2 separate regions of the Homo sapiens genome follow, and region 1 is linked to region 2. A link means that fine-mapping ties the variant in region 2 to the expression of a gene that starts in the linked region. Tissue or cell type: whole blood. Region 2 holds a variant in brackets; the other region holds the start of a gene. All regions are shown on one strand. Distances are between the middles of the regions.

Region 1 (8,107 bases), 160 kb before region 2:
GGTATCAAAACAGGATCTCTGCAGATGGAGCTCAGTGTTATGTGTTTTGGACAGCTCGCAATAAGATTTTCATGCATCATAAACTTTCCCTGAGTATCTCAGCCAGTTTTGTGGATGCCGAGGTTTGTTCAAAGCTGCAGATTACTGGGCCTCACCCCAGACCTACTCTACTTAAATATAGTGGGGTTCCCATAATCCCCATTTTACAAAACCTATCCAAGTTAAAGTACAGAGAATCACAAACTGGAAGAACTCCTTAATTTACAAATAAGGAATGGAGACCCCCCCCCACCAAGAGAGAACGGAATTTGCCCAAGGTCCCCCTGAAAGAGCCTAAGAAAACGTGAGGCTCTAAGGTTAAAATCCTACCTGACACCCTTTCCTTTCCCCAACTAGTCCTGTGACCTCTAGCAAACTATCCTGTCCTGATCTGTGAAATGGGAGCAACAGTCCCACCTACCCCAACTGGTGACTGCGAATATTAAATGGGGCCACAATGAGTCAACTCCAAGCACCACCCCACTGGAAGTTGAGGTTGAACTAATTCTAGATCGCCCTACCCCCATTCATCTCCCAGTACCATTGTATGACCGTGGAGGTGAAACCATCCAGCCGCCTGTTGGTCCCAAACCATGTTCACCTCCACCCGTGGCTCAGTGACTATTTCTTTTCTTGAAGAGAGAGAGAGGCTCCTTGGAGCCTCTGGAGTCTGGAGGGGAATGTTACCTTCCCCATGCCTGCATTGTCTTCCCAAGATAGGATGGACTATGGGGTCTCCATGAGGTTAGCTGCTGGGGCATCAAGGCTAGCTCCTAAGTGGTTGCTGGAGGCTTAGAGACCCCACTCCAGCTCTCTCTCAAATGGGGGCAGCTTGTTTGCAGCAGTGAGTGAGGTGGGCCAACTATGAACCCATGGGAGGAGAGGAAAAGACCATCCCATCTAAGCTTTTACATACCCCATTGCAAGCTCCAGAATGTGGTGCCCAGGCCCATATCTATAACCCACCCCCAGAGGCCAATTCTCCTCAGCCTTTCCTGCCCTTTCTGCCGTTGTACAGCCAGTTTCCATGCTCTCTTCTATCAAACTCCTACTCATCTCTCAGCCATCTAGTCCAAATATAAATCTTTCTCTGTGATATACTCTCAAGGTAGAGGCAGTGGTGCCTTCCTCTGTATTCCGAGAACATGTCATCTGCACCTCTACATACAGACATCATCCTACTGGTAGTGTTCCAGAGCATCTTTTAGGGGTTCATGAAGGAATCACTCTTCGTAAACACTGGCCTTATTCCCTAACTTCACCAGACCTGACCTTAGTGCATGATCCATTCCCACCTCTCCCAACCACATGAGAGCCTTTTCCTCTTTATGGGTTTACAAAACACAAACTGACCCAACCACCAGTTACTGGCCAAAAGCATTCTTGTCACATTTATAATAAAATCCAGCCAACAGGATACTTTGTGCCAAGGGAATGTTCCTTTTCAGGGCAAACACTCTGTCCCCAGGGATGTTAGACAACTTCCATAGCCCCAGATAAGCATTAGCTAGAAGTGAGTTTTCTTTGGTGGCCCAACAGATTCCCTGAGCATCCCTACTCTGTCACTGATTCCAGTTGCAGTGGGATTGCATCAAAGCTCTCAGAGCACAGCTGCAAAGGGTAAAGCAAAGCTAGAGCTCTACTCTGGACCTATCACTCTAGACAGTTTCTCTGTGAGGGGCAGTTTTATACGTAAGGAAGAAATGGAAGATTACTCCCAAAATGGCCTCAGGGTACTTATCCCAATTGTGTGGTTCAGTTGCTACTCCAGTGATGAGCAAATAAACAGGAAATAGAAGCACAACTATTCCTAAGCTCAAGAAGCAGGGAAGCTCAGGAATTGGTGTGCAGCAGTGCTGCTTGGAGCGCCATTACAAAGGGACAAGCACGGTCCACTGGGAGGTAAAATTCAGGGAATCTAAGACACAGGGGGTATGGGAAACAAGGCAGGCTTTTGTATTTATCATTTGCCGTGATATCTCTCTGTGAACTTTCTTTTAATTTTCCCTGTACTTTAATTATATTTCTTAGGCCTGACGTGGTGGCTTACATCTGTAATCCCAGTACTTTGGGAGGCTGAGGCAGGCAGAGCACCTGAGGCCAGGAGTTCGACCCCAGCCTGGCCAACATGATGAAACCCCATCTCCACTAGAAAAACAAAAGTTAGCTGGGCATGGTGGCAGGCTCCTGTAATCCCAGCTGCTCAGGAGGCTGAGGTATGAGAATCGCTTGAACACAGGAGGTGGAGGTTGCAGTGAACCGACATCATGCCACTGCACTCCAGCCTGAGCAATAGAGCAAGACTCTGTGTCAAAAAAAAAAAAAATTCTCAGTTAATGGCCAACATTGTTACCATCATAAGTCCCAGCTTCCCTGTCTTCCTGTCATCATGTGTTGAATGTCCACTTCCCTCCTTATTTTTCAGTTGGAGTGGATTAGCATCTCCAATTCGACATGTCAAAAGTAGAATTTTACACACACACACACACACACACCCCACTCCTGACACACACAGCATCTCTGTCCTCAGACTTCCCCATCCTTCTAGTTGCTCAAGTCAAAAGCCCAGGAATCGTCATTGAGCCCTCTGTTTCTCTTATTTATGGAACATCCATAAGCAAATTCCAAGGGCTGGCCCTTCAAAATAAATGTGGAATCCAGCCATTTCTAACACTTCCACCATTACCATCTGAGGTCGGGCTCCAACATCTTTGCAATCCTGGGACAGACTCTTAGCTGCCTTCTCCCTTCCACATCTCTTCTTGTCCTCCCAGAGTCTTTACCCCGCACAAACGCTGCTAGGGTGATTTTTTAAAATATGTCAGGGTATATTACCCCCCTGCTTCAAATCCTCCATTTAAAATAAATTTCACATTTATAGCAAAATCCAGACTTCTTCATATGGCCCACCAGGGGCTTTATGCTAATGGAATGTGCAGATGCTCCTCCCTGAGGAGCACCTTTTACCAGGGCAAATTCTCTATCTCCAATGATGTCAGGCAATTTCGACAACACCATTCTCTACCATCTCTTGCTTTTCATAGATTTGTTTCCTCCAGATTCTACAAAAAAAGAAGATCAAGTCTCCTTGTGCAATGATTTACTCTCTGATGTATATTGGTGCCAGGCACGTGTACTGCTTTCAGATGATTCAAGAATAACAGCGATTTAAGAAAGCTGTCGTTAAGTTTTCTCTTCTCTTTGTCTGTATGACATTATTTTTACAATTATACTTCCAAAGTTTGCTCTTTCCGAACACCTCAAGACCCGTGTAATTTAAGCAGTGATTTTAGGGGTCTCTGTATATTTTATATTAATTTCAGAAACATGCTCATGATTATTCCACCAAAACTATCAACTGTTACATAAACATCTGTCCTTCTATGAGTTACAAAATAATTGTCTCCATCCCCACTTAACCATCTTCTCTCCTTCTTTGAGCAACTTCTGAAAAATAACACCCAATACTGATGGCATCTCATTCTATTCAGCTTCTCAGACAGTAAGACGTTCTTTTCTTAAACAGTAAGATGTTTTCTCAAGCCCCATGCAAAGCACTTCTTTGATATCAGTTTGGGGAGGTCGTACTCTGGAGCCTTCATCCAAAGGGTAAAGTACAGCACTCAGTAATGCGCGTCCTGGGAACGAGGCCTAAGCAGTGCTGGCCACTGCCTCCTCCAGGCTGGCATTGTCTGTGTTCGCCAGCCCCGCCGCGAAGTTAGCTCATTTGTGATCAGGCCAAGTCCCTTTAGATTTCACGCAGACGCGGGTGCAGCCTGCTCTGGGACTTGAAGTCCGCTGGAGCCTGGGCCTCTGCATTATCCGGGTGGAGCTCTCTCTGCTGCTGCCGCCAAAGGATCCCGCCTGGATGCTCATCCCGCCACCGTCGCCCACCCCGCCGCTGCAGAAAGGCAGCAACTGCCACACACCTAAGCAACTTGGCGGGCTATTCGCCCTGCAGCTGCCGCCAGCGCGCGGCTCCCGCCAGCGCGCTGGCAATCAAAAGTCGGAGAAAGCGCGAAACCTCCAGGCACCTCCCACTCCGCCCAGCTACCGCGCAGCTCCTCCCTAGCCTCCACTGGGAGACAGGGGACGCCCATGAGCGGGAAAGAGCAGGGCGGTGATTGCTTAGTTTATCCTGGGACACGGGAACTGGCCGTGGACTGAGTGGTGCCGGGGAGGGGATCACTGAGACCGGGAAGGGTCATCCAGACAAATAGGGAGGGTGGGCGGGTTGGCGCGCAGTACCCTCGGCCCGGCCTTCAGACCCACCTGCGCGCGCTGCGCGCTCATCCGGTCCTTCCCTTCAATCACTGTCTGGAGTGATGATAATTGGCTTCCACAGTGGATGAGAGATGAGTCATTTACATCCAATGAGAGAAAAACAGCCTCCAGAGACTCTTCGTCCATTGGCCAGCGAGAGTGTCAGTTCCCAGGCTCCTGCCGCGCACGGGCGAGCCCTTCTAGGCGGGAAAAGTTCAGCTGAGAGATATAAAAGAGCAGTCTTTCCAGCACCTGCAAATCCAGAGCGGCGGGCACTGACGGGCACTTGCACCGTGTGGACAGACTCTCCGGTTCTGTGAGTGGTTTTTCTTTTCCCGGGTCGGACCTGGAGTTCTTAGGGGGATGGCTGACAAGGGCAGTAGGCAGAAGGACCTCAGCCCAAAGTCAAGGGGGTTTTGGATGGGGAGCTGGGCAGCCGCCCGTTGTAATTCCCTTCCCCCTGTCTCAGCTTCAAAGGCCAAGAGTTGTACTCCTGAAGAGATACTTAGAGATCATCTGGGTGTTCCTGAATCTCGAGAGGGTCGTTTGACCCTGGTGGGTCCTTTCCCTGCCCGGTGCCGTTCGCGCCCATAGAAGGAGACCAGGTTCGGTTAAGCAGAGCAGAAACTATTCACTGATCAAGGAATGGAGTAGGAGAGCTCCTGCTCAAAGTGCCTGGAGTGTAGTGTGAGGGTGCTTCTTAAGGTCTTTTAGGGCAGGTAGTTGGAAAGCAAGGATTTCTGGAAAGAGACGGGGCTTTCCAGAAACAGCTGAGTGTGGCAGTCTCCTATTTTCTGTTGCCACCCAACACTACATGTGCCTAGCAAGCTGCGTTTCTCCCCGAGGCACAGATTGAGGTATGGTAATCAGCAAGGATTCAGGTTAGGGTAGCGCTTCTAAGTTCGTTTCCCATCTTGTAGCACGGTGGTTACTGACATCCAGTCTCTGTTTCTGTAAGCAAGCACAGCTTCAAGCACAGGTTACCTTCATAGGTTCTGGGGCTTTAGGAAAGCATTGAGGTCATCCTGCGGTGACAGAGGCAGCTGTTCAAAGAACTTGGTGCGCCTTTGAGGCGGGGGTTGTGGAGTGAGGCAGGTAAAAATGCAGATTCCATAGCCACACCCCGACATACTGAATCAGAGTCTGTGAGGGTGGGATCTGGAATCCTTTTTAAAAAGCTTAGAGGAACCAATTCACACGAACAATAAAAGTTTCATCTGAGCCAAAGTCCTTAATCTAGAAATGAGGAAATGGGGATCCCTAAAAGGGTTACAGGGAGAGGGTTGGTGGAAAGTTAGACTATGACAGTTTTAGGGTGGTTCTTTCCTGGCCTTGGAAAGTTTTCTCAGCTGCTGCTCTGATCAGTACACAGCTGAATGCTTTAGGGGAACCCTCTTCATATATCCAGAGTTCCCTCTCTGTGCAGGTCTCCCACCATGTCTTTGGCCTGTGACCTCTTGTCACCTTAGTCTCTCAGCTTTGTCTCCTTAAATCTGGAATTCCTACTGGTTTTGTCTTGCTGCCCTTCCTTGCCACACTGGCCTGGAATTCCTCAAGGTAGTCTGCTAAAGTGGATTATAGGATACATTTCAATTGTCACTGTCCTTAATTGCATAATGTCCAGTTCCTTGCAAACCATTGTTTCATATGTTTTGCTCTTTTTTGTTTTGTTTTGTTTTCATACTAGGGGGAAATCCAGTCCCTGTTACTCCATTTTGGCCAGAAATTCAAGGTAATGACTTTTAATGTTTCTGACTGCTAGTTCTATCTTCTCTCTCACTTCTGGACCTGTCTCTATTCACTGATATTTCTAGTCATTATGGGTCATATTTATCCACTTTTTAAGTGCCTGCTGATTTTTTTATTAGATATCAAGCTTTGTTAATTTCACAACTTTGGGTGCCAGAAATTTTTACATTCCTATCAATATTCTTGAGCTTTGTTCTAGTATGTTCATATTTTACATGGAAACCATTTTATACTTTCGAAGCTTGCTTTTATTTATTAGGTGGGAGCAGAACTAGGGCTAATTTTGTCCTACTGCGGAAGAAATACCTTGCAGAGTAGTCTCCCTGATACTTCATGAATTATGAAGTTTTCTAGTCGGATTTTTGGGAATTGAAATTATACACAGTCCTGTATGAGCCTCAGAAATTGTTACATCTGCTTCTTTTGGGTACTTCTTTTCCTGTTCCTTTTCAACAGTTTCGTTCCACTCATGCATTGACCAAGCTGAAATCTCAAGGGATACCCACTGCAGATCTCTCATACTGTGTGCTCCTGTGGCTGTCTTCTCCCTAGTACTCTGTCATACAAGCTCCAGTCATCTTGGCCTCCCAAAACTCCTTGCTTGTCTTCTCAAATCAGGGAAACTACTAGACTCTGCCTGTTTCTCCTTCCTAAGATATGCCTTGGAAACTCCATACAGTAAGCTAAATAGCCATAGGGCTTACCTCATATGATTTTCTTCTCAGATATCAGAGATGAGGTCCCACACCACCTGATCTCCAGTGTTTGAAAGTGGTTATTTCATAGATCTTGTTTTTTTGGTTTTTTTAGACATTTCAGGTGGCAGAATAAATTCAATCCTTGTTTCTCCATCTTATCGAGTAGTAGAAGTTAGTTACATTCTCTTTGAACTCATCATGAATTCCATGAAGACTGAAGAAAACAAGTCATTTAGCGCTATGGAAGATGACCAGAGGACTAGACCTGAAGTTTCAAAGGTATATCTACTTTTTTACAACTCCTCAGAGGAGTGATAGTCTAACTATAGTGCCATATGAGGATCTTGGAGATAAGTTCTTAAACAATGGTCGTTATAAGCCCTTCTCTTAGGTAGTTTAAAATATATTTGGGGAGCTCATACACATAAGTGCTTGTGGAAAGCAAAATGATAGAGTTAACAATGCTAAACGTATGTTAAGACAACAAGATGACTAACAAACAATATAGACACTTAAAGTCTTGGAAAGTGTAGACAGGCAAAAATAATTAGCTAATGTTTTCTGAGGAAACACTGTGTGCCTAGAATTGTGTCCCATCATATGTATTATCTCATTTAACACTTAATAGAACTATGCAGTAGGTATTATTATCATACTTATTTTATAAAAGAAGAAACTGAAGCTCAACTTGCTTATAGTTGCAGAAGTAATGGACTTCAGAGCAAGGATTTAAACCTAGTCCATCAGACTGCAGAGACTGGTTTTTGACCCACACTATTTTGCTCAAAATATGCAAAATGATAATACAAAATTGAGACATAAACAAGTGATTTTAGAGTACAGAGAGAAGAATGCTTAATTCAGACTTAGGAAACTACAGCAGCGTCATATGAGAAATGATTTATTAATGAATAATAAATCTAAAATTGTCAAACTCATAGGTGTCGAAGTGGTTGTTGGGCTGGGAATAGAGAAAAATGGAGGTATTAGTCAAGGGGTACAAAGTTTCCTTATACAAGGTGAATAAGTTCTAGGGATCTGTACAGCATGGGTGCCTATAGTTAATAACACTGTTGTATACTCAAGTTCTTGCTAAAATGATAGATCTTATGTTAAGTGTTCTAATTACAAAAATAATAAGAGGGCAGGAAGAGACTTTGGGAGGTGATAGATAGGTTGATGGCATAGATTGTGGTGATAATGTATCTCCATACTCATCAAGTTGCATACATTAATTATGTACATTAATTATGCATTTTGTATGTCTAAAACTAAGTTATTTTTTAAAAAGAATGAATAACATTTCACTAGTGTATCAAGGATGAAGGAATGGCCTAAGTAAAGTCGTGTACACAGGA
Region 2 (8,107 bases):
CCCCTTTGACCTTCTGGCTCTGGAGCACCCTGCCCCCACCCCCAGGCCCCCATCAGCTCTATTTTTATCCAAGAAGCACTCGCCCTGTGTCTATTTAGATCACTCCCCATTGAGTTTCTGGTCCTCTCATAATCTAGGCCAAGCCTCCTCAGTCTTCATGGCCCCCTCGAAGGCCAAGCGGATTCTGCATGGCACCCAGCCTGCCAGGAGCCCACAGCTCACCCGAATGGTAGCCCTGGGAAGCTAAATGCTCCCAACTAATGGCAATGCAAGAAACTCACACACCATAGTGGCAACTGTGGGATTGAATGCATTGTCCACAAGAGGTCCCAGGTCCTTCACTCTCTGAGGCCCAGAGGGCACCCCCTGGCAAGGAGGATTCACTCCCACTGAGTGGCTGAGAGGCTGGAGATTAATCCAGACGACAGCAAGTGTTTATTCATAGCAAGAAAGAGACCAGTCGGGCAGAACTTTGACTTGTCAGTGCCAAACCTCAAACCGACAGCTCAGGCCCCAGCCCCTGGCCATAAAGCCACCTGACCTGTTCCTAGGTCTTCAGCAGCTATTTGGAACCTTTGCCAGCTGGGGCCAGGAGCCCCGCTGTGGGGCCATGATTTCCCCCAACCCATCCAGACAGTTGAAAAGATGACCTGGTGAAACCCCGTCTCTACTAAAAAATACAAAAAAATTAGCTGGGCGTGGTGGCAGGCGCCTGTAGTCCCAGCTACTCGGGAGGCTGAGACAGGAGAATGGTGTGAACCCAGGAGGCAGAGCTTGCAGTGAGCTGAGATCACGCCACTGCATTCCAGCCTGGGTGACAGAGCAAGACTCTGTTTCAAAAAAAAAAAGGATGCCCTTAGGAAGCCTTCAGGATTTCAGCTGATTAAGTAAATTAACATGTATGATCCACTTCCTGCAAAGGTGTGGACAGCTATGGGTGGAGAGCCAGAGCATCTTGCCCTATAACAGAAGGGCAGGCACTATCCCTGCTTCCTGCTGGCTTCGTGTGAGGTCATCTATGTGCATGGACCGGCCCCTAGAATCCTCCCCAGCCCGGTTCACAGATGACAAACCTGAGGCAAGAAGGCTCATAGGTCAATGCAGCCAGGAGGGGTCTGAGCTGAGACTTAAAAGCAAAACTGTTTGAGTTGGATCTTCCTGAATCTATCCTTGGAGACGGTCTCAACCCACAGTCCCCACAGCCACCTGAGAACCACTAAACAGGCTAGTTTAAATGCAGGTTTCATCTTCACCTGCTCCCTGGGGCTGATTCCTTAGGTCTTGGGTGGGGCCTGGAAATCTGCCTTCCTGGCTGTTTTCCAAGGCAGTGAGTCAGGCCCACAGGGACCCACCGGTCGACTCCAGCCTCAGAGGTCTAGAGAGGGGAACCTGTGGCCAAGGCCACACAGCAAGACAGACCAGAGCCTGGGTCCCCTCACTGAGGCTGGGCTCCAAGGCTGCCTGCTTGCTTGGGTTGGGAGGAGGCAAAGCTGGTGCAGCAGGGCCTGGCTCTGTACGCTACACCCGGAGGAGAACCAGGCTGTGTTCTCCTATCTCCCTGGCTCCATCTTACTCTGGTCCATTGCAGCCCTACTAGGAACTGTGTTTCTGATGTTTGTAATTCTAAAAATATGTTTTAGAAAACTGGAAATAACAAACAAACCCTCTTTTTCACCAGCACGGAGAAGGGCAGGCTGTCAGCCAGCAGGCCCATGCGCAGATCCCACCATACTCACAGCCAGGTCCTGTCCAGTGGATGGGACAAAGAAGGCCCTGCCCTGGTGGAGCTGACATTCCAGTGGGTGCTGGGTGATGAAGGCAGAGAAACAGTGGGGCTGAGGTGGGGGCTTTCCCCAGGGAGGATGTCTTAGTCCATTCTGGCTGTTGTGACAAAATAAAAACATGAACTGGGTGGCTTATAAACAGAAATTTATTCTCACAATTCTGGAGACAAAGTCCAAGATCAAGGTGCCAGCAGATTTTGTGTCTGGTAAGGGACCCACTTTCTGATTCCCTGTGTCCTCACATGGCAGAAGAGGCAAGGGGGCTAAGGTCTCTTACAAAGGCACCTGGCTGGGTGCAGTGGCTCACACCTGTAATCCTAGCACTTTGGGAGGCCAAGGCTGGAGGATCACTTGAGTCTGGGAGTTCAAGACCCAGCCTGGGCAACGTGACAAAACCTTATCTCTACAAAAACAAGTCAGAAGAGAAAGTGTGAATCGATTCCTGTCCTTGGAGTCCTGAGTGGGCTTAGATGAGGTTAGAGTCTTTCTGCTCTATTCTTCCCTTGCCCTCTGTCCCAGAGGTTGCTGAAAGCTATTGCTGCCCCAGGGCAGGTCAGGGGCCAGAGGCATAACCGTGCACCCACTGGAAGGGGACCCCACAGCTGGACCTGGCTGCTGGGGACATGGAGTAGCCTTGAGGGACCCCCAGCTGGAGGGAAAAGGAAAGCCAAGCGGCACATACTGGACAAGTGTTAGGTTTCAAAAACCCAGGGAAATCCAGATACTGCCCAAGAAAACAGGTTCTAGAACTAGGATTTTCAAATTTAGAAAATTCAAAACATCAAGTGGAAAAGAGGATGGTTTTCCTGTTTCTGGGAAACAAAGGCCTCCCAGAAAACCAGAAACACAGGTGGAAGTCACGAAAGAAAATATAGGTTTGGTGGATGTCTTTTCATCTACCTGTGAATGTTAGGGGCTGTGGAAGGAGAAGAGGAAGCAGGTCTGGACATGGCAAATATGATCAATAAATAATAGTAGAAATTTTCCCTGATCAGAAGAGGGCATGAGTTTGCACATTGAAAAGGTTGTTAGAGTTCCAGGCAGGGTTACATTGAAGAAAAAGATACACCCTTGGCATCTCCTGGTGACATTCTTGAAAGCTACAGATAAAATCAAAGAGGCTTCCCAGCAGAATAAATAGATAATTGACAAAGGAGGAAGAAAAGAAACACATTGGCAGCAGATTCCTCATTTGCAGCACTGAAAACCGGAGGACTCTGGCTGGCCTGGGCCCAGGAAGCCTCACCAGAGCATTAATACCATTCCCTGACCAGACTAAGAAATATATTTTGCAGACGAGCAAGCGAAATTCAGAGGATATTCCCGCTTGTGTTACGTATGAAGGAAATCATCAAGAAAGGCCCTAATGAAATGGCAGTTGATCAGAATAGGGACCCCAAGTTGGAAGGAGAGGGAATCCTTGTTAGTTGAGTCTCACAGTTTATAGGAAAATATCAGTGGAAGGTGGCAGGGATAGGAGCCTTCTTGGGTAGCTCTTACTGGGGTGGGTAGGGCGGAAGGAAGCAGAGAGAGTCCTAGCGGGAGGCAGGTGCTTACCCTGTTTCTATATAATGATCAGGAAGCAACCATTTGCTGTAATGATAGATTGACAATTAGAAAGAGAATAAATAGTAATTTGCCCAAACCATCAAAACTATGGAAAAAGGAGTAAAATAAACCATTCACATAGAATAAAGTGACATACAAATGTCAGATCCTTCAGTTGTTCTAACAAAATCTGAGACTGCTTTAGACTGGGTTAGAAAACAAAATCCAGCTATAGTTGTTTACAAAAAAAAAACTGAAACAGGATAGTAAGAAGAGGTTCAAAATTACAAATTGGGTCAGGTGCAGTGGCTCACACCTATAATCCCAGCACTTTGGGAGGCCAAGGTGGGTGGGTCGCCTGAGCCCAGGAGTTTTGAGATCAGTCTGAGTGACATGGCAAGACCTGTCTCTATCAAAAAAATTACAAGTAGTTAGCTGGGTGTGGTGGCTCGTGCCTGTGGTCTCAGCTACTTGGGAGGCCAAGGCAGGAAGATTGCTTATGCCCAGGAGGCGGGGGTTGCAGTGAGCCCAGATTGCACCACTGCACTCCAGCCTGGGCGACAGAGTGAGATCTTGTCTCACCAACAAAAAACAAAGCAAAACACCCAAAATTAAAAGTTTGACAAAGTATACCTGGCACATGTAACCAAAAAGAAAGAACTGGCAAAGTTAATATCTAAGCGGATTTTAGGGTACAAAGCATTAAAAGGATGAAGAGGACAGTAGGTAAAGATAAAAAGTTCAATTGGTGGTGAAGAAGAATAATAACTTCCATTAACCTTTGGGCCTCAACTCACATGATAACCAACTCTAATGGAGAATGAGAGGTGATGGCTGAGGAGGGCTCTAGACCCAGAAGGTCTAGGTTTGAATCCCTGCTCCACTCACTGATAAGCATGGTGTGGACATTAATTCTCTGTGCCCTGCCTTCCTCATCTGTAAAATGGTTTGCTAATCCTTTAACAGGCATTAAGTGGAAGAGTTAATGCAGGTTGTAATGTGACTGTTAATCAACAGATGTGAGCTATTTTAATTATACATAAACACTGCTGGCGATAAAAGGAGAACTTTAACAGATGCACACATAAAACTCTAGGGAGTGAAGTGT[G/A]GGAGGCAGAATTAGTTACTTGACCTTACTAAGCCTTAGTTTCTCCTTCTGTGAAATGGGTAAAAAGGCTGCCTTACTCACAGTGCTGGCGAGACTCCCAGAGATGCTTACCATCTGCACAGCATGGAGGACTCTGAGAAGTGTTTGCTAATTGTTCTGGAAGGTTGATCTTTGTCCTTTGAGAGGGGCTGGATTTTTGGCTGAACCTGGAATAATAAATAAACAAGCATCAATGCAAAGTCACAAGCTGTCATCGTGGGCTCGAGGTGGCTGCCACTCAGGGAAGGGAATGGAGGTATCAGCTAGTGCATCAGGACCTGGGGTGATCACTCCCCAGAAGGCCATTACCCTGTTCAATCTCCATGAACACCCTGGGGGAGGGAGATAAACCTTCACAGGTAAGGAGAGTGAGGCTCAGAGACTCTGAGTCATTTGTGAGGTCGCTGACCTGATGAGCAGCTGAGGGAAAATTCAAATCTGGGGAGGGTCTTACCCCATAGTCCAGCATCCCTGGAGCCTCTTGCCCATGCCAGGTGTTTGGAGCAATGGGACATCGCAGAAATAGTGTGTGCAACCTCCCAGGGGACAACTTCTACTGTCAGCTGACCAGACCAATCAACTGTAGAGAGCAGCAGCCTGAAGATAGGACACGAGCGTTGAGTTGGACAGATGCTGGCTTGACCTTGGGATGTCATGTGCACACACACAAACACACACATAGACACACCCACTAGATATGAGGATTACAGGAGCTCACAGGATGTGCCTGGTGCCCAGTAGGTGCTTGGTCAATGTTCCTTTCCCCTCCAGCAGCTCCTGTCTACTCTTCCTTGCCAGAACCCCATCCTATCCAGCACCCTACACTGCAAGTTTCTGAGCCACTTAGGTCACAAGTCCCTCTCTTCTCTTCCAGGTGTGACAGGTATGCTTGGGGGACACCCACTTTACACAGTCAAGATGAGTCTCCTCACTTGTTTATTTCTCAGGCACATACATTGGAGAGAGGCTCACAGAGTTGAAGGGACTGGAAGCCCACTTCTATATACAACTCCAGGTGGGCAGCTGCTTTTCTACCACGCCGGATTGAACCTTCCCCCCTGGTTTGTCCTGGCAAATCCCCGCTGGGGCTGAACCACATGTTGGGTTCATGGCCAAGTCCATCCTCAGCTTGGCCAGCTGGGACCAAGATGCTAAAATTTCCTCCCACCCAGAGCAAGGGCACCCACATTGTTCTAATGCAGGACTCCCCGGAACAGTTTCTTAAAAGAAACAGAAAAGTCAAAACTTGTCAGTATATCCATGAACATGATCTTCAGAATAGCAATCATCATTACAGAAAAACCGAGTAATTGTCTCTCAGGTGCCAGTGTGCAGCTGTGAGGCATCCGTGCCAGAAGCCTGAGGAAGAGCCCAGGAGTGTGGCCTGTTCTTGGGAACTGAGGCACTGCGGCTGGCCCCCTGTAAGCTGGTTCCTCCTCGATACACCCCACACCTCGATGAACTGGAGTTCCATGTTCTCAGACCCCCCAGAACAGAAACCAAGAAAACCCATTTCCTCCAGCTGGAAATTCCCAAATAAGTCCCTTCACCCTTTCCTTGTGTTTGGGGTTGTGTGTTCTTAAAGTGGCCCAGTTGGGACCCTTCCCTGCCATTTTCCCTGGGCCCCAGTGCAAGCTGTAAACAGCGGTCACCAGGCCAGCCCTGTGTTTGCTGGCAGCACTGAACTTGGCCCCTTTTCCCACTGAGGGAGGGCAAAGCTGACTACAAGGCAAGACACATCATCCTGAGCTGGGTTTGCGGGAGGCTTTCTGTCTCCTCTTTTTTCAGTGAACCCAGGTGTTGTCAGAGGAAGTAACTTCTTATTGTAGGGTTGGGATTTCATCCAGCACAGGTGTAAGGGCTCAGCTTTATGCATTGGCTTTGGCCTTAAAATGTTCTGTCCCTAGGCCTCATGCAGGTCTTGTCCCCTCTGCCAGCCAAATTTCTGCATGACCTAGGGCCGGTCACTGTACCTTTTGTGAGAGGAGGCAGTTAGGGGCTGGCTAGGCAGGTAGAGATGGAGAGTCTCTGGAGAGAACAACACCCACAGGGAAGTATATTCTTCCCCTGTTACGTAGCTAGCAGGTGGAGATGTGGTTAAGAACTTCCTCTTATACCAGGATGTTTGCTCAGAATGGACTGTCTCAACTTAGGCACAAGCACAATAAATCAACTAAATGTCCTTAACTTGACCCAGCTTATTATAATATCATGAACATGACATCTACGTTGCAGTTTTACCACCACCCCCACCCCCAACTGGGCTTTTCTGTAGTGCCTATGGGTAATAATTACAATGGAGTAACTGTGGACAAGAAGGCACCTGCACAGTAAGAAGTGGAACTAGGAAGGAACTTGGAAGTAGGAGGTTATGTAAGATGCAAATGAGAAAAACATCTCTAGAAAGGAGGGATAAAAACCCTTGGATGAGCTGGTCAGCAGCAACCTACTTTCAGGTCCCCTCTCTTTACTGAGAGCTGTCTTTCTGTCACTTAATAAAACTCGACTCTCCCTTACCCACCCTCCTGTATCCGCATACCTCTTTCTTCGTGGCCACGAGACAAGAACTTGGAACTTACTAAAATACAGAGTAAGGAAACTGCAACATTTCTTAGGGGCTCACCCAGGATAACCCAGACCTCTGTTAACACTGTAAAGTTCACCCAGCCCTCCTAATTGTTATATCAAAAAACCCCACAAAGGACAGTCCTAGTGGACCAGGGAAACAAACCCTAGAACGCCCACAGAAAAGGCGCCAGCCCCTGAAGCCAGTTCTCTGGGTCAATCCTATCGACCCTGTCCAGGTCCCCCCTTAAACTTGCCCCACCATAGACATTTTTGTTCTAGGTGAGTGCCAGCCTCCCTGATGCCCATACAAGAAATGCCTTGTGAATATGGCCCTATTAAGGTACAGGTTCCCTTTTCTCTACAAGACTTAAGACAAATAAAGGGAACTCTTGGTAGATTTTCAGGCAACCCTGGCAGGTATATAAAGGCCTTCCAGGATTTAACCCAAGTATTTGAACTCTCCTGGAAGGACATTATATTTCTCTTAAAGCAAACCCTGACCACTGTGGAGAAACAGCCTCCCTGCAAGTTGCAGAGAAATTTGGAAATGAGCTTTGTACCTCATATAGTGCCAGAGAAGACAAGGCACCTTATTCAATTGGAAAGACGGCGATACCATTGTAGGACCCTAAATGGGACCATGATGATAACATGGGAGAATGGAGGAGGAAACACTTTCAGGTGTGCATATTGGAGGGCTTAGGAAGGACTAGAGCTAAGCCTTTCAATTACTCAAAACTGTGATTGACCAGAGATTAGATGAGAATCCCTCTGGCTTTCTGGAAAGGCTAAGAGAGGACTTGATGAAGCATACCTCTCTATCACCTGATTCAGTAGAGAGACAACTAATCCTATATGATAAAGTTATTATTCAGGCAACACCTGATATCAGGAGGAAGCTACAAAAACAGACCATAGGACCAGGTAGCACTTTAGAAAACCACCTAAATGTGATCACCTTGGTCTTTTACAACAGCGATCAGGAGGAGGCTCAGGAGAAAGAGAGGAGACATAAGAAAACGGCAGAGGCTCTAGTAGCTGCTCTACAGGCCTCCAGACC

Evidence for each region. PIP is the estimated chance that this variant, and not a neighbour inherited with it, causes the effect.
Region 1: it holds the start of FAM111B, and the variant in region 2 is fine-mapped to the expression of FAM111B in whole blood (TOPMed, PIP above 0.99).

What each region holds. Positions count from the first base shown.
Region 1 is chr11:59,102,679-59,110,785 of GRCh38, forward strand. FAM111B (FAM111 trypsin like peptidase B) reads left to right here and starts at 4,559. Exons shown (of 4, transcript NM_198947.4): 1 at 4,559-4,618; 2 at 5,990-6,034; 3 at 6,862-7,028. The coding sequence starts at 6,948. LOC105369315 (a long non-coding RNA gene) reads right to left here and starts at 4,047. Exons shown (of 3, transcript XR_007062680.1): 1 at 1-4,047. RefSeq lists enhancers at 1-342, 4,448-4,537, 5,678-5,727.
Region 2 is chr11:59,266,963-59,275,069 of GRCh38, forward strand. No RefSeq gene overlaps it. Among named protein-coding and RNA genes, the nearest start is that of MPEG1, 58 kb to the left of the region's middle. RefSeq lists an enhancer at 6,188-6,237. The variant G/A (reference allele first, on the strand shown) is at 4,441.